Linked DNA regions of Homo sapiens. The protein of the gene in region 1 interacts with the protein of each later gene in a pairwise test. Each region holds a gene or a part of one and is shown on either strand. Other genes may lie near its edges.

The links.
Region 2: the proteins of NFE2L3 (region 1) and MAFK interact in a two-hybrid assay, tested with the Homo sapiens proteins (one study listed by BioGRID).

Annotation. Positions count from the first base shown.
Region 1 is NC_000007.14:26,169,700-26,184,811, reverse strand, and holds part of NFE2L3 (nuclear factor erythroid 2-related factor 3), read right to left. Parts: intron 6,870-15,112; coding exon 6,690-6,869; intron 1,112-6,689; coding exon 1,028-1,111; intron 280-1,027; coding exon 1-279. UniProt on the Homo sapiens protein: Activates erythroid-specific, globin gene expression.
Region 2 is NC_000007.14:1,521,602-1,537,454, reverse strand, and holds the start of MAFK (transcription factor MafK), read right to left. Parts: upstream 6,754-15,853; 5' UTR 6,557-6,753; intron 5,003-6,556; exon of another isoform or gene 2,575-5,002; intron 9-2,574; exon of another isoform or gene 1-8. UniProt on the Homo sapiens protein: Since they lack a putative transactivation domain, the small Mafs behave as transcriptional repressors when they dimerize among themselves.

The DNA.
Region 1 (15,112 bases):
ATGATTGTCAACCGGTGAAAGAAATCCTGTCAAATTAGTTCCAGGAAGGGTTTGCTCAGGATTGGTGGTATGAGAATTTAACTGCAGAAATGGTTCTTGTGACTGTGAAGTCCTTGCTGTTGGATCTCTTCTAAATGTATTGTTGGGACAAAGCAAGATGGCCTCATGAAGATTCACATCCTGACTTATAGCCTGGCTGAAGTTTACATGATAATGTGCTGAAGAATTCATGCCATCACTGATACTGCCTGGAAGAGGAATATCTCCCAATGAGATGCCCTGAAAAACGAAGGAGAAACACTTCAAACATGAATAGCCCTATTTCTGAAGCAGTTCTATTACCTAACAACTTTCTTTCCCCTCTTTTGTCAATTCCTCTACATTTAATAGAGATAGATGCTGTTGGCAGTAACTTCCTAGTTAAATACAGGCAATACAATACGAGATGTGAGTCCAAATCAGAATACCTGGAATTCTGAGTAACCTAGAAATTAAGATGGATTAGTATAAAAGCTGACTGGATTTTCTTAAAAAGTCTAATGTTACAATCTTGTAATTTGCTACTTTATAATAAGATGCAACTCATCCTAGCGGTTGGTAATCACATTGTGGAGGGTCAGGGATAATAAACTACAGTGAAGTAGTCTGGAGGAGAGAGGCTGTTTAAATGCCTCTAAGCGCTAAAACTACAAGGCTATTGTGAATATTGCTGCAATAAACATGGGGGTGCAGGTGTCCCTTTGATACACTGATTTCCTTTCCTTTGGATAAATACCTGATAATTCTTTTAGTTTTTTGAGAAATCTCCACGCTGTTTTCCATGACTAGTCTAAATTTGATTATACCTTTGGGATTATTTGGAAAGAGGAATGCTATACATATTTGGTTAATTCTAAGCTGAAGTGCTTCTGTAAAAATAAGCATTACTTTAAACTGCTGTGTCATCCAAGTAAAGGAGTTGTATTTGTTCACCAAAAGGTCAGTGCAGATATGTTCCTGCGAGGATAAAAGCCAAAGTTCCAATTACCTCCAGTGAATTTTCAGGCTGTGATGAAAGCAACTGGAATAAGTCTTCCAGAGAGAAAGAAGTATCTGTCCCATTCAGATGTCTCTGTAGAGAAACACAAAAAGTGCATCTTTCACATAAAAGACTGAACTGGTTGGGGCTTTAGGCTTTATCTTTAAAGGATCACCAGGTATTATTTCCACACTGGATTTTTATGCTATTATGTTCCTTGGTTGGAAGTTCTACTTTTTATTATATTTTGAGACGGATCTCACTCTGGCCCAGAATGGAGTGCAGTGGTGCAATCTCGGCTCACTACACCCTCTGCCTCCCAGGTTCAAAGGATTCTCCTGCCTTAGCCTCCGGAGTAGCTGGGATTACAGCTGTGCACCACCACGTCTGGCTAATTTTTGTATTTTTAGTAGAGACAGGGTTTCACCATGTTGGCCAAGTTGGTCTCGAACTTTTGACCGCAAGTGATCCACCCACCTAGGCCTCCCAAAGTGCTGGGATTACAGACGTGAGCCACTGCAGCTGACCTATTTCTCTGATTATGGTACTCAGTATTTCAACATGCATACTTAAAAGTCCAAAGCTAATCAGTATTTCTATTCCTACCATAAACAACTTCCATGTAATTTTTGGCTAATTGTTAGTTTCAGCTTATTTTGCCCCTCCATAGCCAGCCCTCCCAGTTGGTTACACAATTATATAATTTTGGCCAGGTGTGGTGGCTCACGCTTGTAATCCCAGCACTTTGGGAGGCCAAAGCAGGCAGATCGCCTGAGCCCAGGAGTTGGAGACCAGCTTGGGCAACACAACAAGACCGTTTCTACAAATTAAATTAGCTGGGTGTGGTGGTGTGCACCTGTGGTCCCAGCTACTCCGGGATGGTGAGGCAGGAGGACTGCCTGAGTCCAGGAGGTTGAGGCTGCAGTGAGTCGTGACAGCGCTGCCACACTCCAGCCTAACAGAATGAGATCTCGTCTCAAAAAATATTTTTACAGTCAATACTTATTTACATTTACTCCAATTTGTTTTTTTAAAACCAATTTATCGATGCTTCATCTCACTCCTGGCCTTTATGCTTTAGCCTCTTTCTAGTTGAAAGAACTCTTCAGAGTTCTTTTTAGAGAGGACCTGAGCAGTAAACCCAGTTTTTGTTACATGGAATTATTTTGAGACAGTCTTGTCCTGTCGCCCAGGCTGGAGAGCACTGGTGAGATCTCAGCTCACTGCAATCTCCGCCTCCTGGGTTCAAGTGATTGATTCTTGTGTGTCAGCCTCCCGAATAGCTGGGACTACAGGCATGTGTCACTGCGCCTGGCCAATTTTTATATTTTTAGTAGAGCTGGCGTTTTGCCATGTTGGCCAGGCTTGTCTTGAACTACTGACCACAGGTGATCCACCTGCCTTGGCCTCACAAAGAGTTGGGATTACAGGCATGAGACACCATGCCCGGCCTACATGGAATTATTTTGCCTTCATGCTTAAATGATGAGTTAACTGGTAAAAATATAAGGTTTAATGTTTTCCCTCAGTACTCTGTCTTATGGCATTTATTACTACTGGTAAGTTTGCTCTCAGTGTTATTTATAATGAAACTTTTCTATCTCAGGTAATTTAAAAAATGTTTCTTCTTAGTTCTTGACGTTCTGTTTCAATCTGGTATGTCTAGGACTTAATTTGTTTTCGTTAGGAGCTCTGTGTAGTCCTTTAATCTGAGGACTTTTCTGGAAATATTTTGCCATAAACTCATTTTAAATATTGCTTATCTTTCATATTTTATAGTTTCTTCTGGGACTCCTATTAGAAGTAACTTAGATTTTTCTCTTCTATCATTGTCTCAATTTTGCTTTCATATTTTGCATCTTCTCTGGTATATTCTAGATAATTTTCTTAGATCTTTCTTCCAACTTACCCTTTTCCTTAGCTGTTCACATCACTTCCACTGAATTTTCAATGAAAATGACTTTTTTCATATCTAGAATTTCATTTGGGCTCTTTTCTAGATCTTTTTCTTTTTTCATGATAGTCTGTTCTTGCCTTATAGATTCTGTTCCTATGAACAATTTAAACACTGATTTAGAGTCTTTTTCAGAGGACTAGGAATCCTGACTTTTGCATATGCTGACTCATGGCTATTTATGTCATTTTTAATTCTTAAAAGGTGAGCATTTTGGGGAGCAGTTTTGCATTTTTCTTTTCAAGAACCAGTGTTTATATCATTTTCCAGACTGTACTTTCTCTTGGCCGAGGATTCTTGATGGTGATGGTAGTGTGCATTCAGATCTTATATCTAGCTTTGGGGCCCCCACTGGGGTTCTGATTTCTAAAGGGTAGCTAGAATTGTACCAGTCCCCATTTCCTAGATATTCTTCCAGAGTTGTCATCTGGAAGAATGGAAATGCCAGTGATTCACTGGTCTAACTCATTTCTGTTTTATTTCAACAAGCTTTAAAAGCACCTACTAAGTAATAGCCCAATAAAAGAACAGAAATATCTTGTCAGAGCTACTATAAGAAATGTGGCTGGGTGCAGTGGCTCACACCTGTAATCCCAGCACTTTGGGAGGCCAAAGTGGGCAGATTGCTTGAGCCCAGGAATTTGAGACCAGCCTGAGCAACATGGTGAAACCCCACTTCTACTGAAAATACAAAAAATTAGCTGGGCATGGTGGTGTGCACCTATAGCCCCAGTTACTTGGGAGGCTGAAGTGGGAGATCACCTGAGCCCAGGAGGTTTAGGCTGCAGTGAGCCATGACAGCGCCACTGCACTTTAGCCTGGGTGACAGAGTGAGATCCTGTCTCCCCCGCCGCCTTCCTCAAAAAAAAAAAAAGTGTTAAGTACACGAAGATGTGACGTAAATGCTCAGGCTAGGAACATGGAGATAACACAATGAGGAACCAAGCCTGATAAGAATTAGGCACAAATGCCTGGCTTTGAATGATTAATATGTTTCTGAAAAGTTTTGTCCAAATTGATGTTTGTCCTATGTCAAATTACATTTTAAATTCTCTCCAAGGAAGCTCCCTACTTCATTTGTCTCCTCATTAATATTTAGTAAGTGCCTAGTCTGTGCCTAGCAGTGAATTAGTTTGTTACAGTTCTTGCTTTTCTGGGAAGCCCAGTGAGGGAGTAAAGACGAAGACATACCTGGGAGAAAGGCAATATACAATTCAGTGTTAAATAAGTGAAAGACTAGTGAAAACATCTTTTCCCTCAAACAGAGCTGTGAATACTCAGGGAAGTGGGCAGAAATGTTGTCCTCTTCAACATATATATGGTTCTGTCAGTATTTTAATATAAAAGTCCATGGGTAATGATTTGACAATACAGTATGTATGCTGTGGGGAGAGTGGTAAAACCATACAATGCATCCATTAATTAGGAAATAGATAAGTCAGAGGAGCTGGGGAGAATACCAGCTGGGAAAAAAGAACAGGCAGTTGCCAAATGCCAGGTTGCAATTGAGGGTTACAAAAGGGTTAAAGCTCCACTGGTCAGAGTGAAAATGGGAGGGTTCCTTGGGGTGTGCTCTCTACCCCCTCCCCTTCATCTGAAGAATGTCAAAAAGGGCCTCAAGGAGACCACTTAGAACTCAGTGTGTGTTTTCCGCAGTTTGGGGACACAGAAGCTTAGTGTCCTGTTTTTGCCTGGGAAATATAAACGATGAGAAACCATGCAAGAGCCATAGTTAGGGAACTGGAAAAGGGTCTAAGGGCATGTTTCCAGGTGCTAGGCGGCCAGCAAATGGTTGAGAGGGCCACCTGAAGAGGTGAGATGCATGTATACCACGGAACATTCAGGGAAGAGTCCTAAAGGACCAGCTGCAGTGGAGATGCATTTGCCCCTGTCAAGAGGAAGACTCCCAGCTGTGGGGCCAGGGGTCTCCAAAGAACCTATACACGAAAAGGTGCCCACGTGACAAAGAGTTGTATAATATTTAAATGTATCGCGTGGTCAAGAGAAACAATTTCCTATGTTCTTAGCACCCCACACCCTCAACCCCAGAGAAATCAGCAGGGCAGGCCACACAAAACTGAGGAAAGATGCTGAATTTTAGCCCAGTGTGTTTTGTTTTGGATTTTTCTTTTTTGAGACAGGGTCCTGCTCTGTCACCCCGTCTGAAGTGCAGTGGCATGATGACGGATCACTGCAGCCTCAACTTCCCAGGCTCAAGTGATCCTCCCACCTCAGCCTGCCAAACAGCTGGGACCACAGGCACACACCACTACGCCCAGCTAACTTTTGGTTCAGCGTTCTTGGAAATTACATTGGGTTATACTTTTTTTTTTTTTTTTTGAGACAGGGTCTCACTCTGTTGCCCAGGTTGGAGTGCACTGGTGTGATCACAGCTCACTGCAGCCTCGACCTCCCAGGCTCAGGTGATCCTCCCACCTCAGCCTCCTGGATAGCTAGGAGTACAGGAACACATCACCACACCAACTAATTTTTGTAATTTTTGTGGAGATGGGGTTTTGCCATGTTGCCCAGGCTGATCTCCAACTCCTGGGCTCAAGCGATCTGCATGCTTTGGCTTCCCAAAGTGCTGGGATTATAGGTGTGAGCAACTGTACATGGACACACTGGGTTATTCTTATCAATTGCTGCACTGGGATGGCCAGAGCGATTTTCATTAGTATCTAGAATTTATGGGACCTGCCCTAGATTTCACCAAGGGGCTCTAGGTGGAAGCTGGAGGGGCAAGGGAGTGGTAGGCAGGCAAAGAGAACAAACCTGTTTTCTGATTTCATGCAAAATAAGTAATGTTCCATGTAATATTACATGGCCAGGGCTACCATGATGACAGCTGTCTGAGAAGGGTCAGGGCATGGTACTCTCCATCCTCCAAGGTATTCAAAACACAGCCCTAAACTCCACATTCTGGGAAGGGGACATGCTAAAGCAGGTGATGCCTAAGAAAACCGTCAGGGCAAGACCCCTGAGGGTATGCCTTCCAGGTGGAAGTGCCACGTGGTTATTAAATATCTCGAGTGCCTGTTTGCCATGCTTGTGGGCAGGACCTCAGCAGGGCTGAAGAGAAATCAGAGTACAGCCCAAATGAAAGGAGGAGGAAGCACAGATCGCAGAAAGCATCCATCCCTTCAGCCTGGCTCCGGGAGTTCATCTTTGTACACCTCTTCTCACAGCCAAAGAGTAAGGTTAGGCAATGAGGAGTTAAGGAGGTGGTCCCACTGGACCATGGATGCCCAACGGTTCAGCCAGGCCTGCCAGGAGACTGAACAAAGATTTCAGCCCAAGCCTTAGCTGACATCATGGGTGATTGGCTGTAGGGTTGGTCCTCGGCTTGCTCTCCTGGACTAGGCCAGCCTGGCTACCTGTGCATGTGGCTGGTTGAGGACTCCTAGGTTCCCCATTTCTTCATCACTTGCCTTGGCAAACATAACTAGCAAAACCTGCTAGCAAGGTCCTGGAAGGGGGTGTGTGCACATACACACAAAATCTTGAGTTTAACCAGAGAAAACAATTGTATGGGCTAATTCATTTATAAATCAAATTACTACTCCCATAACTTAAAGACATAGGTATTTTCATATATCATATTTGTTAATAGTAGAGCATACTGTTTTACATGCTCATTCTTGACACAAACTGTCAATGCCACAAAATCTACATTAAAACCAAAACGGCAAGGCTTGAATATTCTGACAGGCTTACCTCATTTCTAGATTCAGTGGTCTTTTCTGCCTCCCAGTCAGGTTTCTCTGCTATTTTGTTTTCATCATCATCATTCTGCTGAAGTGAGTTCTCCTTCTGGGCTGACACCCTTTCTTCATTTTCCTCATGCTGGGAACTATGATCCACAGCTTCGTGCTTTTCTCTTAGTACCCCATTCTCCTATAAAAGTACGAAATTTCATCAAATAAGCAAACAGTCTTTAAAACTGCATTGTGCTTATTGTTCAGGGACCATGAAAACCCACAAGTCAAAAGCTAAGACCGGCATTTCAATATTTCAGTATCAAAGAAACATTTAATTCAGAAACAAAGGTCAGTTTTACATCCTGTCCTGAGACAGGCTGTTCTAATCTGTGCAATTTAAATTAACATGCACTTATAAAGCCCCTGAATTTAAAATACTCATGAGTTAGATTAGATTTGGAAATTAATGTTGCCAGCAGGCAGTTTTAGTTTTCTGTTGAAAATTGATTCCTTCCTTCCTCCCTTCCTCCCTCCTTCCCTCCTTTCGACGGTCTCCCTCCATTGCTGAGCCTGGACTCTACTGCCGTGATCTTGGCTCGCTGCAACCTCCCTGCCTCGGGCTCCCGTGATTGTCCTGCCTCGGCCCGCCCAGTGCCTGGGATTGCAGGGACGCGCCGCCATGCCTGACTGGTTTTTGTATTTTTGGTGGAGATGGGGTTTCGCCGTGTTGGCCAGGCTGGTCTCCAGCTCCTGACCTCGAGTGATCTGCCCGCCTCGGCCTCCCGAGGTGCTGGGATTGCAGAGGGAGTCTCGCTCACTCAATGCTCAATGTTGCCCAGGCTGGAGTGCAGTGGCATGATCTCGGCTCGCTACAACCTCCACCTCCCAGCTGCCTGCCTTGGCCTCCCAAAGTGCTAAAATTACAGCTTCTGCCCAGCCGCCACCCTGTCTAGGAAGTGAGGAGCGTCTCTGCCTGGCCACCCATCGTCTGGGATGTAAGGAGCGCCTCTGCCCGGCCACCCCGTCTGGGATGTGAGGAGCGCCTCTGCCCGGCTGCCACCCCGTCTAGGAAGTGAGGAGCATCTCTGCCTGGCCGCCCATCGTCTGGGATGTGAGGAGCGCCTCTGCCCGGCCACCCCGTCTGGGATGTGAGGAGCGCCTCTGCCCGGCTGCCACCCCGTCTAGGAAGTGAGGAGCATCTCTGCCTGGCCGCCCATCGTCTGGGATGTGAGGAGCGCCTCTGCCCGGCCGCCCCGTCTGGGAGGTGAGGAGTGCCTCTGCCCGGCCACCCATCGTCTGGGAAGTGAGGAGCGCCTCTGCCTGGCCACCCCGTCTGGGAAGTGAGGAGCGCCTCTGCCTGGCCACCCCGTCTGGGAAGTGAGGAGCGCCTCTGCCCGGCTGCCCATCGTCTGGGATGTGAGGAGCGCCTCTGCCTGGCCACCCCGTCTGGGAAGTGAGGAGCGCCTCTGCCTGGCCACCCCGTCTGGGATGTGAGGAGCGCCTCTGCCCGGCTGCCCATCGTCTGGGATGTGAGGAGCGCCTCTGCCTGGCCACCCCGTCTGGGAAGTGAGGAGCGCCTCTGCCTGGCCACCCCGTCTGGGATGTGAGGAGCGCCTCTGCCCGGCTGCCCATCGTCTGGGATGTGAGGAGCGCCTCTGCCCGGCCGCCCCGTCTGGGAAGTGAGGAGCGCCTCTGCCTGGCTGCTGTGCAATCTTCCAAGTGTGAAGTGACAGCCTTTCTGCAGGTGTACCCAACAGCTCCGAAGAGACAGTGACCATCGAGAATGGGCCATGATGACGATGGCGGTTTTGTCAAAAAGAAAAGGGGGAAATGTGGGGAAAAGAACGAGAGATCAGATTGTTACTGTGTCTGTGTAGAAAGAAGTAGACACAGGAGACTCCATTTTGTTCTGTACTAAGAAAAATTCTTCTGCCTTGGGATGCTGTTAATCTATAACCTTACTCCCAACCCCCTGCTCTCTGAAACATGTGCTGTGTCAACTCAGGGTTAAATGGATTAAGGGCGGTGCAAGATGTGCTTTGTTAAACAGATGCTTGAAGGCAGCATGCTCATTAAGAGTCATCACCACTCCCTAATCTCAAGTACCCAGGGACACAAACACTGCGGAAGGCCACAGGGACCTCTGCCTAGGAAAACCAGAGACCTTTGTTCACGTGTTTATCTGCTGACCTTCTCTCCACTATTATCCTATGACCCTGCCACATCCCCCTCTCCAAGAAACACCCAAGAATGATCAATAAATACTAAAAAAAAAAAAAAAAAAAGAAAAGAAAATTGATCAAACAGCTAATTGGAAGCAAACACTGATCAAATATGGAAACTATTTTTTTTTTTTTTTTGAGACAGAGTCTTGCTCTGTCGCCCAGGCTGGAGTGCAGTGGCACGATCTTGGCTCACTACAAGCTCGGCCTCCCGGGTTCACGCCATTCTCCTGCCTCAGCCTCCCCAGTAACTGGGACTACAGGTGCCCGGCACCACACCCGGCTAATTTTTGTTGTATTTTTAGTAGACACAGGGTTTCACCATGTTAGCCAGGATGGTCTCGATCTCCTGACCTCGTGATCCGCCCGCCTCGGCCTCCCAAAGTGCTGGGATTACAGGCGTGAGCCACCGCACCCGGCGGAAACTATTATTATAAACTATTAATTCTGGTTCTCTCTGAAGGTTGGCAACAGGGTGGGAAAGAGTTTACTTCACTTTATACGTGTCTATAACTGTGAATATTTTACAACAAACACATATTGCTTTATTTATTTATTTTTTTGAGTCTCACTCTGTCGCCCAGGGTGGAGCGCAGTGGCGAGATCTCGGCTCACGGCAGGCTCCGCCTCCCAGGTTCACACCATTCTCCTGCCTCAGCCTCCCAAGTAGCTGGGACTACAGGTGCCTGCCACCACGCCCAGCTATTTTTTTTTTTTTTTTTTTGGTATTTTTTAGTAGAGACGGGGTTTCACCATGTTAGCCAGGATGGTCTCAATCTCCTGACCTCATGATCCGTCCGCCTCAGCCTCCCAAAGTGCTGGGATTACAGGCATGAGCCACCACGCCCCGCCATATTCCTTTTATAATCAGGAAAATGATAAATGTAAAACATCTCCACAGATCTATACTTATTTACCCAGATAAGTCCTTCTACCTTAATTTACTTTATAAATAAGGAGACCTAAATAATTAAAAGGCTAGAGAATTCTTCTAAACATTCAAATATGGTTACCATTTAGAGTGTACTGCATATTCAGATAGTTTCAACTATCATGTTAAAAGCTCTCTGGATGTATTTTTTCCCTATAACATTAAAGCTTGTCAAACTTTTTCACTCTTTCTGTTTCTTCCAGGAACAGGACACACTGGCACATCCTTTTCCCACCAAACCACAGAAAAACATTTTTAAGTGAAGGTTGAAGAAATGGCAATTTACAGATGCCAGAAGAAAGGATAAAAATCAAGGCAAGATAAGAAAAAAGGAGGCTGATGTTCTGCTGGTCCACTTGGTTTACTGGCTTCTCTGTCTGATTGTGCCTAACTCTGACACTGTGCCTTCCCTCTAGACACTGTAGATGATGTTTAGTCCTAGCTCAATCAGTCTCTCCCTTTGCACATTTCCGTTACAACCCTGCTCATGTGCTCAAGATATTGCTCCTGCTACTCTCCCCTCTCTTCTGCATCAACAGTTCTTTCTCATCTACTGGACAATTCGCATCAGCCTACTATCATACACAAATACCCCCACCTTTAAAAACCCCTCCCTTGGTCCCACACTAGTCTTCAGATTCCATCCCATTTTTTGCTCCCCTTGACAGCAAAAACCTCCAAAGAGTATCTGTACTCAGTGTATTTTCTCTTCACCCATCAGCAAAATTTGACTTAGTTACCATCTCCTCCTGGAAACAGCTTCTTCACCTGGCATCCAAGTACCTCTCTATTCTCCTACCTCATCAAGAACTTCTGCTTTGCTGATTCTTCATCCCCTTGATATCCAAACATAGCAATGTCCCAAGGCTCAGTTCTCAGGTCCACCAAGCACTCTCCCACTTCACAGCCCTTGTATTTGCAGCCCTTTCTGCCTGTAAGCTCTCTCAACCCTCTTATCCTCCTGACCCCAGGTCTCTTCAAATATTTACCATCTCAGTTTTCTTTCTTAATCTCTCTATATAAAAAACTACATCAAAATCTTTTTCCCTTATCTTGCTTTATTTTTTCTCCATAGCATTTAGCACCAGCTGATATATTACCATGTTTATTTGTTTGCTGTTTGTCCTACTAGAATGCTAGTTTTTTGAAGGCAAGGGCTCTGTCTGCTTGGTTCCTGCTGTTGGCCACTTCGTAACCCAGATTCTGGCACATAACAGACCCTTGCTACATATTTGTTGAATAGCTGAACTCTTAGACACAATATCCTAAGACTTTGATAGAGATCTTACTTCTGATAGATTGTTCTTTCCTGCAACAATACTGATTCCTATATAAATCTGGGGAAGGAAGAAAAGGTGACTGATCACTTTTTACCTCTCATCTTTTGCCAAGGTAAGGTTTTTTGTGGTTGTTAAATCTGAATATAATTAAATTAAAAACTTTGGATACCCGAGGCAGCTAACTTTGTTTAAAAACTTGCTAGTGGTAGAGAGAGAAACTTCTAATCTCGAAATCAAATGATCTATTTTAGAACCATGAAGCAAAGTCCCCTAAATCTGTAATATGTGCATTAATACAACACACATGGACACACACAAACATGCAAACACAAGAATGTCACCTATATTACACAAATAATAACAGGGAAACAAGTGGTTGATACAGATCAAGCCCATAGAGAAATTGATCAAGCAAACTTTAGTCTGGGAAGGCTTTTTTTGTGGGGGGAAACTTTTTGAGTGTAATGAATTGGTAACAAAGGTATGTAAGATGTCTTGTCTGAAAACTCAGGAAGAGAAGGACTGGAGGCAGAGAAATTCTGTATGATCAAAATTCACACTACAGGAAGCCAAAATTAGGTATAATATAATAATGGATCATAACTCATTGAATAAAATGAGTTGAATAAAAGAATCAATGAGTGCACTCAAATATAAACAAATAAATGAAGGAAAAAGGAAATCTTTCTTATAGTAGAATACAAATAATAAATATAAAAGGAGAATGATGAATTAGAAAACCATCAATGGATGCTTAATTTAAGGAGTGAAAATTTTATGAGAAATAAGATACTTAAAGAGTCTCAAAGTATCACTCTGCAGATTACTTGTTAATTACAAAAAGAAAAATAATAACACTACAGGAGAAATCTGGCAGACACCATCTAAATCAAATGGTCAACTCTATCATCAAAATACGAAGTTAAACCAACATCGTGGTCTCCTGATATGGAGGACACAATACCATTTCTGTGATTTTCTCACCAAAAATTCATAATCTCAATCTAATCATTGAGGAAACATCAGATAAATCAACATTGGGGGTCATTTTTACAAACTAACTGATTGATGCCCTTCAACAATCTAAAGGTGAAGAAACACTGAGAGAGGAGTGTTTCCACATTACAGGTGACTAAAGAGACTCGGCAAATACATACTGACAGATTCTGAAAATGGACTGTAGATTAGATAGTAGCCTTACATTCAGATTAAATGTCCTGATTTGATAACTGGGTATAGAAAAGAAAATCACTGTTCTTAGGAAATATACACTAATAAGTATCTGGGTGATGAGGGATGCAATGGTTTCAATTCACATATGTATACAGAGAGACATCGTTATTAATATAGCTAAATGAGGCAAGACATAAATAGGTAAATCTGGGTAAAGGGTATATATATGCCATTTTTAAAAGTTTGAAATTATATTTAGCTAAAAGGTTCACCTAAAAATGCCTACATAGCAAAATCACTTTGGCTAAGGCAACAGCAAAGGGTTAGCCCAGAATTTCTCCCATTAAATTTTCTGTTTATTTGTGTTTTGCCCCCAAGGGCATAGACATATAAACTTTAATATTTTCAACTCTTCTAACATTTAAATTTCTTATTTCATTTTCTTATCTAATTGCTTTAGCTATGCTTCCCAAATAATGCTAAATAATAATGGTGATACCTGATATTCTTGCTGATGAATTTAATGAGAATGCTTCACCAATAAGGATGACTTGTATTTGAGATACAGTCAGTCATTTTAAATTGAGTATCAAATACAACACTAGTGCTGGGAATACGACAGTAAAAAATACAATCAGACCCTGCCCCCTTCACATCTTACATTCTATTTTTGTTTTTTTTGTAGAGATGGGGTCTTGCTATGTTGCCCAGGCTAGTCAAACAATTCTTCCTCCTTGGCCTCCCAAAACACTGGGATTATAGGTGTGGGTCATCACTCCTGGCCAGATCTCACATTCTAAAGAGAGAGGGAACCAAAAATACAAGTGAACTAATGAAATAACTGCAAGTTATGGTAAGTGAAAGAGCTAGCTAGCTATGTGAAAAAAGGAGACAAAGGAATTCAAGGCATAGATAATATCCGAATGGTATACTCATTTGCCTCTTACCATAGTTTATTTAACTGGCTTCTTTTTTTTTTTTTTCTTTTCAGAAGGAGTTTTGATCTTGTTGCCCAGGCTGGAGTGCAATGGCGCGATCTCAGCTCACCGCAACCTCCACCTGCAGGGTTCCAGCGATTCTCCTGCCTCAGCCTCCCGAGTAGCTGGGATTACAGGTGCCTGCCACCACACCCAGATAATTTTTGTATTTTTAGTAGAAACGAGGTTTCACCATGTTGAACAAGTTGGTCTCGAACTCCTGACTTCAGGTGATCCACCTGCCAGCCTCCCAAAGTACTGGGATTACAGGCATGAACCACCACGCCCAGCCTAACTGGCTTCTTAATGGTGCATAGTTGTTTCTAATCTTTTCTTGTAACAGATATTAAAATCTCCTCATCCATACTTCTTTGCACACGTGTGCAAGTAGGATACATTCCTGGAATTTATGCTGGGTCAATGGATATGTGTGTTTTTTATTTGATGGATTCTACTGAAAAGCCCTTCAAAAAAGTTTGTGCCAATTATAATTCCTACCAACAATGGATAAAAGTGCCAATCTGATAGATGAAAACTGGTGATCATGGCTTACTGCAGCCTCAAACTCTTGGGCTCAAGTGATCCTCTCACCTCTCAGCTTCCCCAGTAGCTGGGACTACAGAAACATGCCACCATGCCTGGCTAATGTTTACTTTTTGTAGAGATAAGGGTCTTGCTGTTTTGCCCAGGCTGGTTTCAAAACTTCTAGGCTCAAGTGATCCTCTCCACTCAGCCTTCCAAAAGGACTGAGTCATGCAGGCCAAGAGCGAGTCAGGGTCTTCTCTGATGTGCTTTTTTAGGCCTTGGTATCACTGTTATCCTGGTTTTGAAAAAAGAATTGGGAAGCTTTATTTAACATTGGAATTCCTGATACTTGGAATATTTGAAAGAAATCCCCTTGAATTCTGTCTGTGCCAGGAGTTTTTTGTTTTTCTGAAGAAACTGTTCTGACAACTTTTTAAACTTATTTCATGGGATATACCAACAGACATCCAAAAAGGCTGTTCCAACCTACACTGCCATCTGGTATGTGAGCAAACCCATTTCCTCACACCCCACCTACCTTGGGTTTGTTTCTTAATATTTGCTAATTAAAAGGTGAGAAACACAGCTCATTAGCAGGACAGTCTTGCAGGTATCAGCGTACATAGGAAACGAGGGGGTGAATATGAAGATAGTAGGGGCACAACTCTGGACTGAGGTGGGGACAGATTCGAAATGTTAGAGTGCCTGCCTGCTCTTAAAGATGAGCAACTGAAAGAGCCAAGGGAAGGAAGGTAGTGGCTACAGTGGATATTTCTTCTTTAGCCGGGTAGGGAGAGGAAGACACCAAGACCTGGGGACCATGTCACATCAGTCTTGAAAACCTGGTTTCCTTAGAGGGCCCCTTCCAGCTCTGACACTCCAAAGGTCTATGAATAAGTGACCGTATAATTTATCACCAAACCCATCCACTTTTGAGAGGGTAAGAGGGTACTATTAACCATTAGGCTGGGCAACAAGCATAAACCAGGACTATCCCATATGGTGACCCACCTGAGGCCACAGGGGAAGAGACTGCATAGCTCTTAAGAAGGGGAAGAAGAGACTGCATAGCTCTTAAGAAGCATTTTTTTTTTTGGTAGAGACGGGGTCTCGCCATGTTGCCCAGGCTGGTCTTGAACTTCTGGGCTCAAGCAATCCTCCCACCTCAGCCTCCCAAAGGGCCGGGATTACAGGCGTGAGCCACCGCGCCCGGCCACTCTCAAGAATCTGGATGGCAGACTGAATTCCACAGACTGAGGGAAGAAAAATACTTCAACCTGCACAGACTTAGGTATTGAATAAGTATCTTCTTAGATGGTCCTTCCTGTATT
Region 2 (15,853 bases), about 25 Mb from region 1:
TCCATGTCAGAGGGAGGGGCCGCGGGCACCGCTTCCAGCTCCACTGCGAGCACGTCAGTGCACAGGCCGGCCACGACATAGCTATGCGGTGAGTCACCAGATGTTTACAGAGCCGCGCGCATTCCCACACACCCGGGCCTCCCACCCAGCAAGGACCCGCTCCTGGGCCCCCGGGCCCACTGCCCGCCGTGGCAGCACAGCCGGGCGGAAAAGGAAGGTCCGGGGGACAGGACCGTCTGGCCAGACCCACGGTGACGTGTGGGGCTCGGCCAGATGCCAGGGGCAGAGTTCAGCGTGGGGATCTTTCCACTAAAAAGATGCCTCCGCGATGCCCTGTGACACTGCGGAGGCACACGGTAGCCGGGGGCGCCCCAGGAGGGGTGGCTGACTACTTCCAGGAGGTCAAGGTTGCCAGGGCTACTGAAGCACGCCTGTGCCCCGCTCCAACCCCAGTACTTCGAGGCACACCTGCACTGGGGCCCTCTGAAGAATGAGGACCTGGCGGACGCAGGGCTCCCAGGCGGCCCCCACGCTGTGCTCGCAAGCCTGCCCCCCACCTCCTTGGGCAGGTCACGACTCTGCTCTGCCGAGGAAGCCTGGACCAGCCACGCGCCTGGAGAGACGACGCAGCGGGACGGCCCAGCCAAGCAGCAAAGCTTCTCTCAGGAACCCAGCACGGGATGGGATGGTGCTGGCGCCTCCCTCTCCCCACCATGCACAGAATAAATCCAAGTAGCCTTAACCTAATGTCGCTTTAAACATCAGAGGCAAGAAAGATGACAGCTTGCTTTTGGAAGGACATTCAGAGAAGAGTTTTGTATGCACAAAAAAAGTTTGTAAAGCAACTGATCTAAAAATGACGACTGCCCTAAATGGGGTTTTGTGAACTGTCCGACCTCACATGGCCTCCAGGGCCGCCAGAGCACATGTAGAAAGCGCTCCCACCCCAGGGCCAGAGACGCAGCCTTAGGGTGTCATCCAGGGGGAAAGCGTGCCTGGGGTCGCAGAGACGCCCGTGCACTACCCCGGGCCCAAGGCAGGGGCTACTGCATTAGCACCTGGTCAGCACTGCAGCCAAGCTCCCCTCCAGCAGCCCCCGAGGAACGACGTCCTCGCATTGTGTCTTACGCCCAGCAGCTAACAAAACACCAGCATCGCCACGCACAAGCACCCGACACCCCGAGCTCCTCTGAGTTTCGGTGGTCACCAGAGAAGTGCAGTGTTCAGCGCCACAGCGGGGGCCTGGGTGGGCGGGTCTGAGTTTCCGCTGTGGGGCCCCAGCAGCCGACGTAAGTAAGGGTGCAGCGCTCACGCCCCACGTCCCGGGAGCAGCGCCGGGCAGCAAAGTTCTCCGGCACCACCTATAACTTGGAACAGCTCTCAGGTAACTGGTTTTCGGATGGAAGAGGCAGGGTTTTCAACCCAAGGCCAGACACCTCGACGTGACGCAGAACTAAACAAGGCTCAGCGGGGGCATCACTTCCTCTCAAGGAAAAGGAACTGCCAGCAGCCTCAGACAGAGGCAATTCCTGCGGCTGCAGCTGGGGATGAGTGACGGAGCCAGGACGCCGGGCGCCCCTTTCCAGGATCCAGACTGAGGGCCTGGGCTCCATAAAGCGCAGGGCAGGGCGGCTCCGCCCAGGAAGGCACCTTGCAGAGGGTGAGGATCAGAGCCCTGGGCTCCCCCCGGCAGGGCAGGCAGCCCAGGGTCAGTCGTCCAGAACTGTGCTTTCAGGAGCAGGTGATCCCCAGGCAGCCACCTCAGCTTCTGGAGGATCATGTTTTCCCTTTTAATTTTCATTTTAGAGACAAGGTGTCACTCTGTCACCCAGGCTGGAGTGCAGTGGTGAAATCACAGCTCACTGCAGACCTCCTGAGCTCAAGCGATCCTCCTGCCTCAGCCTCCCGAGCAGCTGGGACTACGGGTGGGCACCCCCACACCCAGAGAATTTTAAACTTTTTTGTAGAGACAGGGTCTCACCATGTTGCCTAGGCTGGTCTCGAGCTCCTGGACTCAAGTGATCTTCCTGCCTCAGTCTCCCAAAGTGCTGGGATTACAGGTATGAGCCACCATGCCCGGCCATTTTTAACTTTTTAAGTCCCAGCAAATACTCACTGGTCACCCATGGGCCTGACCCTGCTCAGTGGGGGGCTGGCAGCCTTGGCACCTCTTGCTGTGCTGGCACAAGCTGAGAAGGACCTGCTTTGGGGTCCAGGAGGGAACATTTTCTCCACCAAGTTGGGACTGGGCACAGTGGCTCTTGCCTGTAATAGCAACGCCTCCGGAGGCCGAATGCTCGAGCCCAGTAGTTTCAGGCCAGCCTGGGCAACATAACAAGGCCCCATCTCTACAAAAAAAAAAAAAAAAAGAATTTTAAATAGCCAGTTGTGATGGCACATATGTGCCTATGGTCCCGGCTACTCGGGAGGCTGAGGTGGGAGGATTGCTTGAGCCTCGAAGTCGAGATTGCAGTGAGCTGTGATCACACCACTGCACTCCAGCAGCCTGAGTGACAGGGCAAGACCTTATCTTTTAGGAAAAAAAAAAAGAGAGAGTGCAAAAGTGAGTTGAGCAGCTGACGGCTGGATGACCCCTCTGAACGGTCCCGGCTGTGGATGCCCATAGAGAAACGGGGATTTCAGCTTTGGGGCTCTGATTCTTCCCAGATGAGAGGACGCATCGGGGCTGCCGCTCGCTCTACGAGGCCAGCATGGGGGCTCTGGATGGGTCACTTGTTCTTGCCCAAGGGGTGAATGATGACACAGACTCCATGCCCCACCCCCTCAGCTGCCCAGCCAGTCTGACCAAGACGGAGTGGCCCTTCCACTTCTATTCTCCGCGGGTCTCCGAGGATGTGGGATGCGGGAGAGGGAGGAGGGGCAGGAGGAAGACCAGGAACGGAGGACGGGAGCTCTGTGCGAGAGACACGGGTTCAGAAACCCAGCAGCACAGCAGCAAGCGCCCTCCCGCCCCCCGACCAGTGACTCCCACGGCAGGTGCAATCCACAAAACCAGAGGCCACCCAAGGTGTACCCGCCTCTCCCAGGAGCCTTTCTGCCAGAGACCCCAAGCCGGGTGCCCTCCACACTGGGCCGCAAGGGTAGGTGGGGCCGCTGTGGCACTGGTACCCAGTGGGTGCCTGTCAAACAGGTGTCAACCGACTAATTGCAGCCCAGCTGGTCCCAGAGACCAGCCAGACACCCTTCCTACTGAGGATGAGGTCCTACACTGCGAGGGCCCCCACTGTCCGGCTGTCCCGGACACAGCCCCACTAAGCATGCGGGAGGCACCCCACTTGGCACCCCGCAGCCCGGCCCATACCAGCCAGCAGCCTGGCCCTGGCTGGCTGCCCTCCAGCAAGCCATGACTGTCGGCCCGGCTTGGAGGACGTCTGGTCACCTTGCATTTGCAGTCTGAGGAAGCTGTGTCATTCCGCTACATCCAGAGGTGACTCAGGCAGCTGCAGCAGCAGAGAGCAGACTGCAGAACACACCACACCCCCTCCAGTCCCCGCCCTGGCTCCCACCACACCATCCTCCTGTCCTCGGCCTCCAGCTCCCCATCAGCATCCTGTTCTCCCCCGGCCGCCCTGGGGCTTCAATCCGCTCCCAGCCTCTAAGTCCAGTCAGGGGCATTCCGGGGGGCCCAGATGCCCCCCAGCCCCCAACCGCATCATTCACCGGAGTTGCCCCTGCCCCTCTCTCTTTTCCTCATCCACGCGCCAACCAGGCTTGATCCCAGCCCTCAAGCATCACCCGCCTGAACCCACAGCACCTGCCCAGGCTCCGGCCTCCAGCGTCTCCTGTCTGGACCACAGCTTTGCCAAATGGGATGCCCTCACCCTGATCCTGGTGCCCCCCACACAGCCCCACAGGCAGTCAAAAGTCTTGGGGGTTCCTCCCAAACCCCGACTCCCCCACCCCAATGCCGTTTCAGGTTTCTGATCACCATCTGCAGAGAGCACGTGGTTCCCTGCCCTGCTTCTTCCAGAAACACTCCCCACTGCTCTCCTCCTCGCGTAGGCAAGCACCCTCTACCAAGGCCTGGTTCTAGATCCTTCTGGGGACAGGGGGCCTCCCCAAGGCATGGTGAGCTCCTTGCAAGCAGGGAGAAGGTCTTCCCTACACCCCACACTAGCCCCCGCTGTACGAGATGAGCCGGCCCCGCATGGGAGGGCAGGGAGAGGGCAGTCTCCACCCCAATACCTTCCCCAGGACACCCGACGCACAGTGCGGAGAAGCAGGAAGGCTCTACACCAGACCCCACCGGCCTGTGGGACAGGCCAGCAGACCTCATGGCCTGGGCTTCCTCATCTACAGCAGCTGGTCGGGGGGTGGGGCATGTGGCCACTCAAGTTCGCTTGTACCTGCTCTAAAACTCTATGATTTTAAGACGACACTCCCAGTTTCCTGAAACTGTAGGAAAGCGGAAACATGACGAGTCTGTGACTTATAAAAAGCAAAAATAAATAGCGGGGAAAGGCATCTTCCATTCGCGGAGAGCAGGGAGGGTGGGGACGGAGCGGTGAGTCACTGTTTACTGTTGAAAGGCGGCCACACGGAGCCCTCTCTCAGCTGGCCAGATTTCCATTTCCCGTGTGGACTGGACCCGAAACCCAGAAAGTCCACTCCAGAAACCTTTAGACTCAGAAACAGCTGGGACAAGAACAGGCACAACTTCTTCTCCGTCTGGGTGGCAAACAGCTTTGCCAGAGACTGTAAACAAACGCAGCCATCGCTGAGCCCCGTGGGTGAAAGCACACGCCTTGTAGACAGCGAAGTGGCCCGGAAGACGGTCTCCCTTAACAGCAGCCTCCCGGGTGCACACAAAGGCTGGCGCCCCGACAACCCTGACCCTCGGTAAACGCTGGCTCCCGGGTTTACCAGCACCTGGGGAGTCGACGCTGCGGGCAACCAGCCCCTCAAAGCCCTGGCTCGGTTCAAGGATAAAAGGCAGGAGAAGCCTGGTTTTTCTGCTTTAATAAATGTCTTATTTTGGAATAATGAGAGGTCTAGTTTTAAAAGCAGACTCCCTCTCCCAAGGTCAAACTCAGACATTCCTACTGGGTTACCTAAGAAAGGGAGATGTTCTCATAAATGGCACTGGACGCCCAAATAGGGTGTAGGTGTGTCCCAGACACCTGCACAGCCCACCTATGTTCTCCAGACCCCGCCCACGGCTCTTTTAATGCTCCATGTCCCTGAAGACATTGGGTTTGGAGAAGCTGCATAGGGCACCCCACTCTGTGTTGGAGAACCCCTTACAACAACACACCGTGACGGTGAAACCTCAGTGCCAGTAAAGAGACCTGGCAGCCCACCCTGGAGAATCAGAGGGGTGGGAAGGGCGCTGCCAGAGCCGAACCACACAGATATCCCCTAGACCACGATGGGGGGCGGTGGGGGGCGTTTTGAGTCTCAGGATCTTCCCAAGGCCAGGCACCTGGCCAGAGATTGGCTGGCTGCCTGTGGGTCACCTGGTGAATGAATGGTGAGTGGATCTAATTTCTGCCTCAGCTACAAGAGCTACTTAAGAAGCAAGAAAACAGCATGCTCAGGGACGCAGGACACCAGGAGAGGGACACGGGAGGCCCCGCGAACACGGACACACACGGTGTGAGCGCGAGAATGCAGTGCAGGGCCACTGCTGTGTCCCAGGCGGACCCAGGTCAAGGGCCAAGGCCAGGCGGGGTCCTGGCTTTCTGGGTTTCTCGGTGGCGCCTGGTCCCACCCCCCAGGATCTAGAGGCTGTGCAGACGCAGACACACACAGTCACGGGCACATACACAGTTTCCTGAACTTGACAGAGGCACAGAAGAACTCACGCAGTGGGAGCGGGAAGAGGCCGGAGCCCCTGCCCCACACGTGAGCAAAGGGACGAGCCTTGGGGCCACTGTCACCTGCCCCCCTCCCGCCTCCCCACGGCCTTCCTTCCAGCAACCCTGGCAGGTGGGCGGCTGAGAGCGACACCAGTCCCAGGATCCCGCCTGTGGGGAGACCCGGTTACCCCCACCCCGTTCCCGGGCACGCGTGACCCCAGCCACTGGGCCAGAGCGCCGCCCGTCACCGGGAGGAAGCGCGGGGGGCAGTCCGGGGCCGCACGCGGAAGCCACGCTGGGGCGGAAGCCGCGGAGAATCCACGCGCCCGCGCCCTCCCCGCACCGCCCGCACGTGGCGCCCGCCCCGCCCCGCCCCCCGCAGGTGTGAAGGCGCGGGCCCGATGCGCGCCGCCGACCCGCGTGGATCCTCGTCCTCCCAGGTCTGGGGTCCGCGCCCTGGGGCCCCCGGCGCGGCAAGCATGGCCCGGGCGGCACGTGCAGGGGAGAGAGCCTCGCGTCCCGGGGAAGCCCCCGGGCCTGCGGGGCGGGGCCCACCTGGGCAGGTGCCCGGGCCGCGCCGCGGGCCGCATGAGGGTCTCGGGCCCCGCGCACCCAACCCCGCCACCCTCGGCCCGCGCCCCCAGGCGGCCGTGACTCAGCGGCCAGGTAGCCCCGGCCCCGCGCCCCGGTCCCCGTCCCCGCCGCGGCCCGGGCCCCGCTGCCCCACCGCCCCTCACCTGGCGTCGCGCGGAGGGCGCGGGCGCGCGGCGGCTCCTCGCGGGCACGCGCTGTCCTCGCGCCGGCGCTCACTGTCGCGCTCCCCTCGGCCGCCGCCGCCGCCTGGCGCTCGGGCTCCGACTTCGCGAAGAACAACAAGTGCCCCCGCGCCGCCCGCCGCCACCGCACCCGCCCGCCCGGCTCCCCAGCATCTGACACCGCTTCCGGGATCCGCGGCGCGCGCGTCACACCGCCCTGCCCCCCGGGCCACGCCCCCTCCCCGCCCCGCGGCCACGCCCCCCGGCCACGCCCTCCTCTCCCGCCCGGGGGGCCGCTGGCCCCGCGCGCACCTGCAATCCCCGCGCTTTGGGAGGCCCTGCGGGAAGATCTCTGGAGGCCGGGAGTTCAAGACCAGCCTGGGCAACATAGCGAAACCTCCCTTCCCCCATTCTCTGTCTCTATAAACATAAAAAACATTAAGGCCAGCTGGGAACGGTGGCTCATGCCTGTAATCCCAGCACTTTGGGAGGCCAAAGCAGGAGGATCGCTTGAGCCCAGGAGTTCCAGACCAGCCTGGACAACACAGTGAGACCCCCATCTCTACAAAAAAATTACAAAAATTAGTCGGGCGTGGTGGTATGTGCCTGCGGCCCCAGATATTCAGGAGGCTGAGGCAGGAGGATGGCTTGAACCTGGAAGGTGGAGGCTGCCATGATTTCATCACTGCACTCTAGCCTGGGTGACAAGGTGAGACCCTGTCTCAAAAAAACAAAACAAGCAAACCAGCAATGTAAAAATGGGGATAAGCGGCTAGTGATCACAGCCTCTGTGGGTGGGGCCAGCCCCCTTCTAAAGCCCCAGCTGGTGGTTGCCAGGGGACACAGCAGGCCCAGGATGGGGTTAGGGCACCACTGGCCCAAGGAGTCCTGTGAGGGATCCTCAGGTGGGGGCGGGCCCCTGAGGGAGCTGCCTCTGCTTCCTGTCACAGGTGGAGGACAGGCTGGAGAGGGGATCCGTCTGGAGCCCCTTGCCACGCTTCTGGGTCCCCAAGTCCCGCCCCCCTCTGAGCGCTGCAGGAAGAGGAGTTTCAGGCCTGGGCAACCGAGGGCCCCCCAGGACACCCATGGCATCTGCCCGGGGTTCTGGGAAGCCTGTTTTCTCAGCTCAGGTGGGACCCGGGAGCCTGTTTTCTCGGCTCAGGTGGGACTCAGGAGCCAGTGCAGGGAGGTCTGTGCATCTTCTGGGTGTCGTCCTTACCACCATGTGGCTGGGGATTTAGGCAGCAGCCCAGTGGCCTCTTGCTGTGGAGCGCGGGGGCAGCCTCCCGGGCCATCTCTCCCCCCCACTTGCGGGTTCTGCACTGGCCACCTGGGAGGCCCCTCCTTGCTAAGGCCCACACGGCCGTCTGGGGCAGCTAGCCACAGTGATGCCTGCAACCTGGCCGCAGAAACAGGTGCCAAGAAATAACTCAACAGCAGCAGTAGCGACAATGTCCCACGTCCCCAGGATGTTTGCAGAAAGACATCCCCCGGGGATGGGAAAGGTGCTTCCCTTGTCCTGGCCCACACTCTGCACTCGGGGTCCTGGGATGCGCTGGGAGCCTCCAGAGAAGCTGTGGCCATCTCCGCGGGACTCTTTACGTTACTCATGGTGTCGCTCCTCTAACCCAAATGCATTCTTTCCATAGCAGGCTTTTGTTACTAATCACACACTTTTATTATCTCTTTAATTTTTTAATTTGTATTTATTTATTTCTGAGATGGAGTCTCACTCTGTCGTCCAGGCTGGAGTGCAGTGGCACCATCTCGGCTCACTGCAGCCTCCGCCTCCCAGGTTCAAGTGATTCTCCTGCCTCAGCCCCCTCGAGTAGCTGGGATCACAGGTGCCCACCACCACGTCTGGTTAAATTTTGTTTTTGTTCTTGTTGCTGTTTTGAGATGGAGTCTCACTCTGTTGCCAGGCTGGAGTGCAGTAGCACGATCTCGGATCACTGCAAGCTCCGCCTCCCAGATTTAAACAATTCTTCTGCCTCAGCCTCCTGAGTAGCTGGGACTACAGATGCCTGCCACCACGCCCGGCTAATTTTTTTTTTTTTTGTATTTTTAGTAGAGACGGGTTTCACCATGTTAGCCAGGATGGTCTCAATCTCTTGACCTTGTGATCTGCCTGCCTCGGCCTCCCAAAGTGCTGGGATTACAGGCGTGCGCCACCACACCGGCTGATTTTTGTATTTTTCGTAGAGACGGTTTCACCATGTTGGCCAGGCTGGTCTCGAACCCCTGACCTCAGGTGATCCACCCGCCCTGGCCTCCCAAAGTGCTGGGATTACAGGCGTGAGCCACTGCATCCAGCCTAATTTTTAAAATTTTGAATTATTTATTTATGTTTGTTTTATGAGACAACATCTCACTGTCGCCCAAACTGGAGTTCACTGGTGCAATCACAGTTCCCTGTAGCCTCCACCTCCCAGGTTCAAGTGATCCTCCCACCTCAGCCTCCTAAGTAGCTGGGACCAAGGGCTGGTGCTACCACGCTTGGCTAATTTTCTTTGTTTTTTTTTGTAGAGACAGGATCTTGCTCTGTTGCCTAGGCTGGTCTTGAACTCCTGGGCTCAAGTGATCCTCCCGCCTCGTCCTCTCAACGTGTTGGGATTACACGCATGAGCCACTGTGCCTAGCCAAAGTTTACTTTTTATTGTGGTAAAGTAAACATCACATAGAATTTACCATTTTAACCATTTTTTTTAAGTTAAAAAAATATTTTTTCAGAGATAGGGTCTTGCTACGTTGGTCAGGTTGGTCTTGAACTCCTGGCCTCAAGCAATCCTCCTACCTCAGCCTCCCAAAGTGCTAAGATCACAGGTGTGATTAGGTGAATAGGCTGGGCATGGTGGCCATCACACTAGGCCAAGTTAACCATTCTAAGTGTACGGTTCGGTGGCGTTAAGTACATTCACGTTGTGGTACAAACATTGCCATCATCCATCTCCAGAAATTTTTCATCATTTAGTAGTTCCTTTTGTAAAAAAATGTTAAGTTCTGGCTGGGCAAGCTGGCTCACGCCTGTAATCCCAGCACTTTGGGAAGCTAAGGTGGGTGGATCACCTGAGGTCAGGAGTTCAAGACCAGCCTGACCAACATGGAGAAACCCTGTCTCTACTAAAAATACAAAATTAGCTGAGTGTGGTGGCGCATGCCTATAATCCCAGCACTTTGGGAGGCTGAGACGGGCAGATCACCTGAGGTCGGGAGTTCAAGAGCATCCTGACCAACATGGAGAAACCCCATGTCTACTAAAAATACAAAATTAGCCAGATGTGGTGACTCACGCCTGTAGTCCCAGCTACTCGGGAGCCTGAGGCAGGAGAACCACTTGAACCCAGGAGGCGGAGGCTTCAGTGAGCCGAGATTGCACCATTGTACTCCAGCCTGGGAAACAAGAGCAAAACTCTGTCTCCAAAAAAAGAAAAAGTGTGTGTGTGTGTGTGTGTGTGTGTGTGTGTGTGTGTGTGTGTGTGTGTGTTTTGAAACAGGATCTCATTCTGCCACCCAAGCTGGCGGGCAGTGGCACGATCCTGGCTCACTGCAGCCCGGACCTCCTGGGCTCAAGCAATCCTCCTGCCTCAGCCTCCCAAGTAGCTGGGACTACAGGCATGCACCATCATGCCCAGCTAACTTTTATATTTTTAAATAGAGATAGGGTCTCACTAGGCTGCTTAGGCTGTTCTTGAACTCCTGGGCTCAAGCAATCCATCTGCTTCAGCCTCCCAAAGAGCTGGGATTACAGGCATGAGCAACTGTGCCCAGCCTTGAAGAAAACATATGTAACTTTCTTTATAACTTCAGAGTGGAAAAAGGTTACTCTAATCATGATTAAAAATCTAAATACCACAAAACAGATTCAAGGCAAAAATCCTCGGAAGTAAAGTCACAACACAAAGCACACACTAGGAAAAATACTTGCAACTCAGATCTACCAGGCAAAGGGCTCCTAAACGTGTATGAAAGAACACAACCAATAAAAGAAGGCAAAGGAGGTGAATAGATCATCCACGGAAAAAGAAATCCACAGGACAAACATGTGAAAAGGTGTCTGTAATCAGAGAAATGCACATCAGAGAAAGACATTGCCGTTCTGCTTCTTGTCCAGGCGAATCCCCAAATCAGATCTCGTGCCCCAAAGGCACGGCTCAGGGAGCGAGCCCTTGGACGCATTGCTGGTGGAGGGGCCAGGCAGCGGAGCCCCAGGGAAGGAGTCTGGCCACACTGTCCATGAGACCATGGCCCCGATTTGTGCTAGAACCCAGCAATCCCACTACTTCTTTGTCCTTCTCCTCCTCCTCCTTCTCCTCCTCCTCCTCCTCCCTCTTCCTCTTCTTCCCCCTCTTCCTCCTTTTTCTTTCTTTTCCTCCTCCCCCTCCTTCTTCCTCTTCCTCCTTTTTCCTCTTCCTCCTCTTTTTCTTCTTTCTCCTCCTCCTTCTTCTTCTCCTCCTCCCCTCCCCTCTTCTCCTTCTCCTTTCACTCCTCCTCCCTCTCCTTCTCCTCCTTTCTCCTCCCCCTTCTTCTCCTTTCTCCTCCCCCTTCTTCTTCTTCTCCTCCTCCTCCCCTCCCCTCCCCTCTTCTCCTTCTCCTCTCACTCCTCCTCCCTCTCCTTCTCCTCCTTTCCCCCCCCTTCTTCTTCTTCTTCTCCTCCTCCCCTCCCCTCTTCTCCTTCTCCTCTCACTCCTCCTCCCTCTCCTTTCTCCTCCTTTCCCCCCCCTTCTTCTTCTTCTTCTCCTCCTCCCCTCCCCTCTTCTCCTTCTCCTCTCACTCCTCCTCCCTCTCCTTCTCCTCCTCCTTCTTCTTTTTTCTTTTGAGACAAAGTCTCTTCTGCTCAGGCTGGAGTACAGTAGTGCAATCCTAGCTCACTGCAGTCTTGAACTTCCAGGCTGAAGTGATCCTCTAGCCTCAGCCTCCTGAGTAGCTGGGGCCACTGGTGTGTGCCACCACATCCAGCTAATTTTTATATTTTTTTCATAGAGACAGGGTCTCGCTATGTTGCCCAGGATGGTCTTGAACTCCTGGGCTCAAACCATCTTCCTGCCTTGGCCTCCCAAAGTGCTGGGATTACAGGTGTGAGCTACAGCACTCAGCCTCAGAAATCCCGTTTCTGAAACTTGTGCCATTCACCTGCTTGTTCATATGTAAAAGGGACAGGTGCAAGGATCACCACGGTGACATCGATGGTCATTGTGACCGACTGAAAACAGCCAAGCTGCCATTGTTGAGGGCCTAGCTAAGTCACTTAGCAAGCCACAGAGCAGAGTACTATGCAGCTATGAAAAAGAAAGCAGAAGACCTCTGCGTGCTGATTTGGAAGGTCTTCTGGGGTACATTGTTAATGAAAAAGCAAGGTGCAGAACTGGTGTATAATATGCTACCTTGAGTGTAAGAAAGGGCAGGAGAGAAAAATGTAGATTCGTGTTTGCACCAGTACAAGGAAGACTGGAGGGATGAACAAGAAGCTAATAGAGGCCGGGCCAGGTGCAGTGGCTCACGCCTGTAATCCCAGCACTTTGGGAGGCCGAGGTGAGTGGATCACGAGGTCAGGAGATTGAGACCATCCTGGCTTACACAGTGAAACCCCGTCTCTACTAAAAATACAAAAAAATTGGCCGGGCGTGGTGGGCGCCTGTAGTCCTAACTACTCGGGAGGCTGAGGCAGGAGAAAGACGTGAACCTGGGAGGTGGAGCTTGCAGTGAGCCGAGATCGCGCCACTGCACTCCAGCCTGGGCGACAGAGCGAGACTCTGTCTCAAAAAAAAAAAAAAAAGAAGAAGCTAATAGAGGCCGGGCACAGTGGTTCACGCCTGTAATCCCAGCACTTTGAGAGGCCACGGCAGGAGGATTGCTTGGGGCTAGGAGTTCAACACCAGACTAGGCAATGTGGCAAGACCTCATATCTACAAAAAGTTTTAAAATTAGCCAGACATAGTGGCACATGCTTGTAGTCCTAGCTGCTTGGGAGGCTGAAGTGTGAGGATCGCTTGAGCCCAGGAGTTCAAGGCCAGCCTGGGCAACAGAACAAGACCCTGTCTCTACAAAATATGAAATAGCTAGGCTCATGCCTGTAATCCCAGCACTTTGGGAGGCTGAGGCAGGCAGATCACTTGAGCTCAGGTGTTCAAGACCAGCCTGGCCAACATGGTGAAACCTGTCTCCACTAAAAATATAAAAAACTAGCCAGGCGTGGTGGCAGGTACCTGTAATCTCAGCTAATCAGGAGGCTGAGGCAGGAGAATCACATGAACCCAGGAGGAGGTTGCAATGAGCTGAGATAGCGCCATTGCACTCCAGCCTGGGTGATAGAGTAAGACTCAGTTTCAAAAAAATTAAAAAAAAATTAGCAGGGCCCTATGGTGCACACCTGTAGTTCCAGCTACTCAAGAGGCTGCGGTGGGAGGATCGCTTGAACCCAGGGGTTTGAGGCTGCAGTGAGCTAAGATTGTGCCGTTACACTCCAGCCTGGGCAAGAGAGCGAGACCCTGTCTCTAAAAAATAAAAAGAAAAGCCAGTAGAAACAGGTGCCTTTGGCGGGGTGGACGGGGCAGGGTGAGAAACCAGACTTCTCTGGAAAACCCGTTTTATGTTCTTTTGGCTGTCGTCAGGCCACATATTCAAAACTATACAATTCAATGTAAAGTGAGATAGAGGAAAGAATGGCTGCCTCGTGGGGTGGTTGTGTGGGTTCAGGTTCTAAGGGGCCATGCAGACCTTTGCCCCATGCCTTGGTGAATGTCCCTGTGATTACGGCTTTATGGCAGAGGCAGCCTTAGTTACGCCCGGATAGGCTGTCCCTGTTTGCCCCGGGAAGAGCGGTGTGGCAGCCGGGGCTCTGGGACTGGGGTACAGAGCGGGGTCTGCCCCAGGACCCCAGCGGTGCAGGGCTGGTTCTTGCAGGGAGACGAGTCCAGTTGCACCATGAGCCCGGGGCGCCCCGGGAGGGGTGGGGTCCCTCCTACCCTCGCTTCTTCCTGAGAGTTGGAGGTATGCAGGGTAACCCGGGGGACTCAGGTGGCCCCGGCTGAGGTCGGGGAAAGGAAGGGACACGGAGACCACCAGGATCAATTCTACTGCAGGGAGAAGACAGGCAGGAGCCCTGAGCATGGCGTGTGAGAGGTGGCCCCAACAGTTCTACCCTCAGGATGCCCACAGGCTCTCCCCCAGGGACTCAGATCCCAGAAAAGTGGAGACTGGAGCCCGGAACAGGCTGGACTTCAGGACCCCCGGCCACATCCCACCCCGAGCTCGGGAAGTTCAGCGTGGCTCCCCGGGAGCTAAAGGGGGCCCAGTGTCTGCACCCCACGCCTCGGGAAGGGGCAGCCTCTGCAGGCAGGTGCTTGCTGACCGCCACACACGATGCATGCTTCTCTGCAGGACGGCAGGGCTCAGCGGCACCCCTTCGTCTCCAGCACTCCCTGCCCCCGTGAGGAGGAGAGGGGATGTGACTCTCTCGGCAGAGGCAGGGCCACACCTCGACCTGGTCCGCCTGCATGCTCAGGGCTGTCTTGGGTGCGGCAGGCTCAGTCCTGTGCCCTTGGAAGGCTCCACCTGAACAAAGGCCCTCCCAGGAGTGTGGGGGCCCCCTGGCTGGGTCCCAGTGTTCAGGCTCCTCCCAGGAAGCAGTGATGGGCTGGGGCTGTTGGGATGGCGGGGGACCTCTGCCTGTGCAGGGAGCAGAGGGAAAAGGGGTCCCTGTGCATGTCAAATCTGGGAGAGGTACAAAGAGCCCCGGAGAGGGAGGAGGTGGGATCTGACTTCCCAATGCTTCACCACTTGCCCTGAGGGCACGGCTGCCACCCTTGAGCCCGCTCCTCATCCCTAAAATAGAAACAGGATCGACTTGAGGGCCAGACACGGGGAAGTTCGTTGTAAACTGCAAAGCATTCTCAAATGAAAAGACCGGCTGGGCGCAATGGCTCACGCCCAGGACTTTAGGAGGCCGAGGTGGGCAGATCACCTGAGGTCAGGAGTTCGAGACCAGCCCGGCCAACATGGTGAAACCCCGACTCTACTAAAAATGCAAAGATTAGCCGAGCTACGATGGCGCCATTGCACTCCAGCCTGGGTGCCAGAACGAGACCCTGTCTCCAAAAAAAAAACTCAAAACAAACAAAAACACAGTAGTTCCCACCCAGTGGTGACCTGGCCTCTGGGGGTCCCTCGGCCTGGACAGCTTCCTGCATCCTTGGTTGTCATGCCGGTGGTGGGGGAGGTGACCAAATTTCTCTCCTGGAGCAAAACCCAATCAGGCTTCTCTGGCTCTTTCTTTGCTTTTTTTTTGAGACGGAGTCTCGTTCTGTCACCCAGGCTAGAGTGCAATGGCGTGATCTCAGCTCACTGCAAACTCCGCCTCCCAGATTCAAGCGATTCTCCTGCTTCAGCCTTCTGAGTAGCTGGGATTACAGGTGCCCAACACCACACCCAGCTACTTTTTTTGTATTTTTAGTAGAGACTGGGTTTCACCATGTTGGCCAGGCTGGTCTCGAACTCCTGACCTCAGGTGATCCACCCACCTTGGCCTCTCAAAGTGCTGGGATTACAGGCGTGAGCCACCATGCCTAGCCTAATTTTTTTGTTTTTTATTTTGTGTTGAGAAAGACAGGGTCTCACTCTATTGCCCAGGCTAAGGTGCAGCAGCATGATCATCACTCACTGCAGCCTCGACCTCCTGAGCTCAAGTGATCCTCCCACCTCAGCCTCCCAAAGGGCTGGGATCACAGGCATCACCCACGGCTCCAGGCTGCCTTCCCATCTTCCACAAGCATCATTGAATGATGTCTTCTTTTTCTCTAACAGGGAGTTGCTGCTGGCGTGGAGTAAGCGGGAGCCAGGGAGGCTGGTCAACACCTGCGTGCACAGGACAGACCCACAGCAAAGAATCTTCCACCCACGGGCTGGGGTTGGGGCACCTGTTCCGGGGAAGCCCAAGTCCCTCTGTGACAGCCTTTCCCTCATGCTCAGACAACAGCAAGAAGCCAATTAAGAGCTGCCAAGGTTGAGTTTCTTTTGGGTGCCAGTCACTGGGTCAGGTATTCCACATTCCTCCATTAGACTCTTCCAAAGGGCCTGGCGAGACAGCCAATACGGTTCGGCTGTGTCCCCACCCAAATCCCATCTTGAGTTGTAGCTCCCGTAATTTCCCCATGTTGTGGGAGGGACCCTGTGGGAGGTAATTGAATCACGGAGGTGGTTTCCCCCACACTGTTCTCGTGGTAGTGAATAAATCTCACGAGATCTGATGGTTTTATCAGGGGAAACCCCCTTGGGCCTGACTCT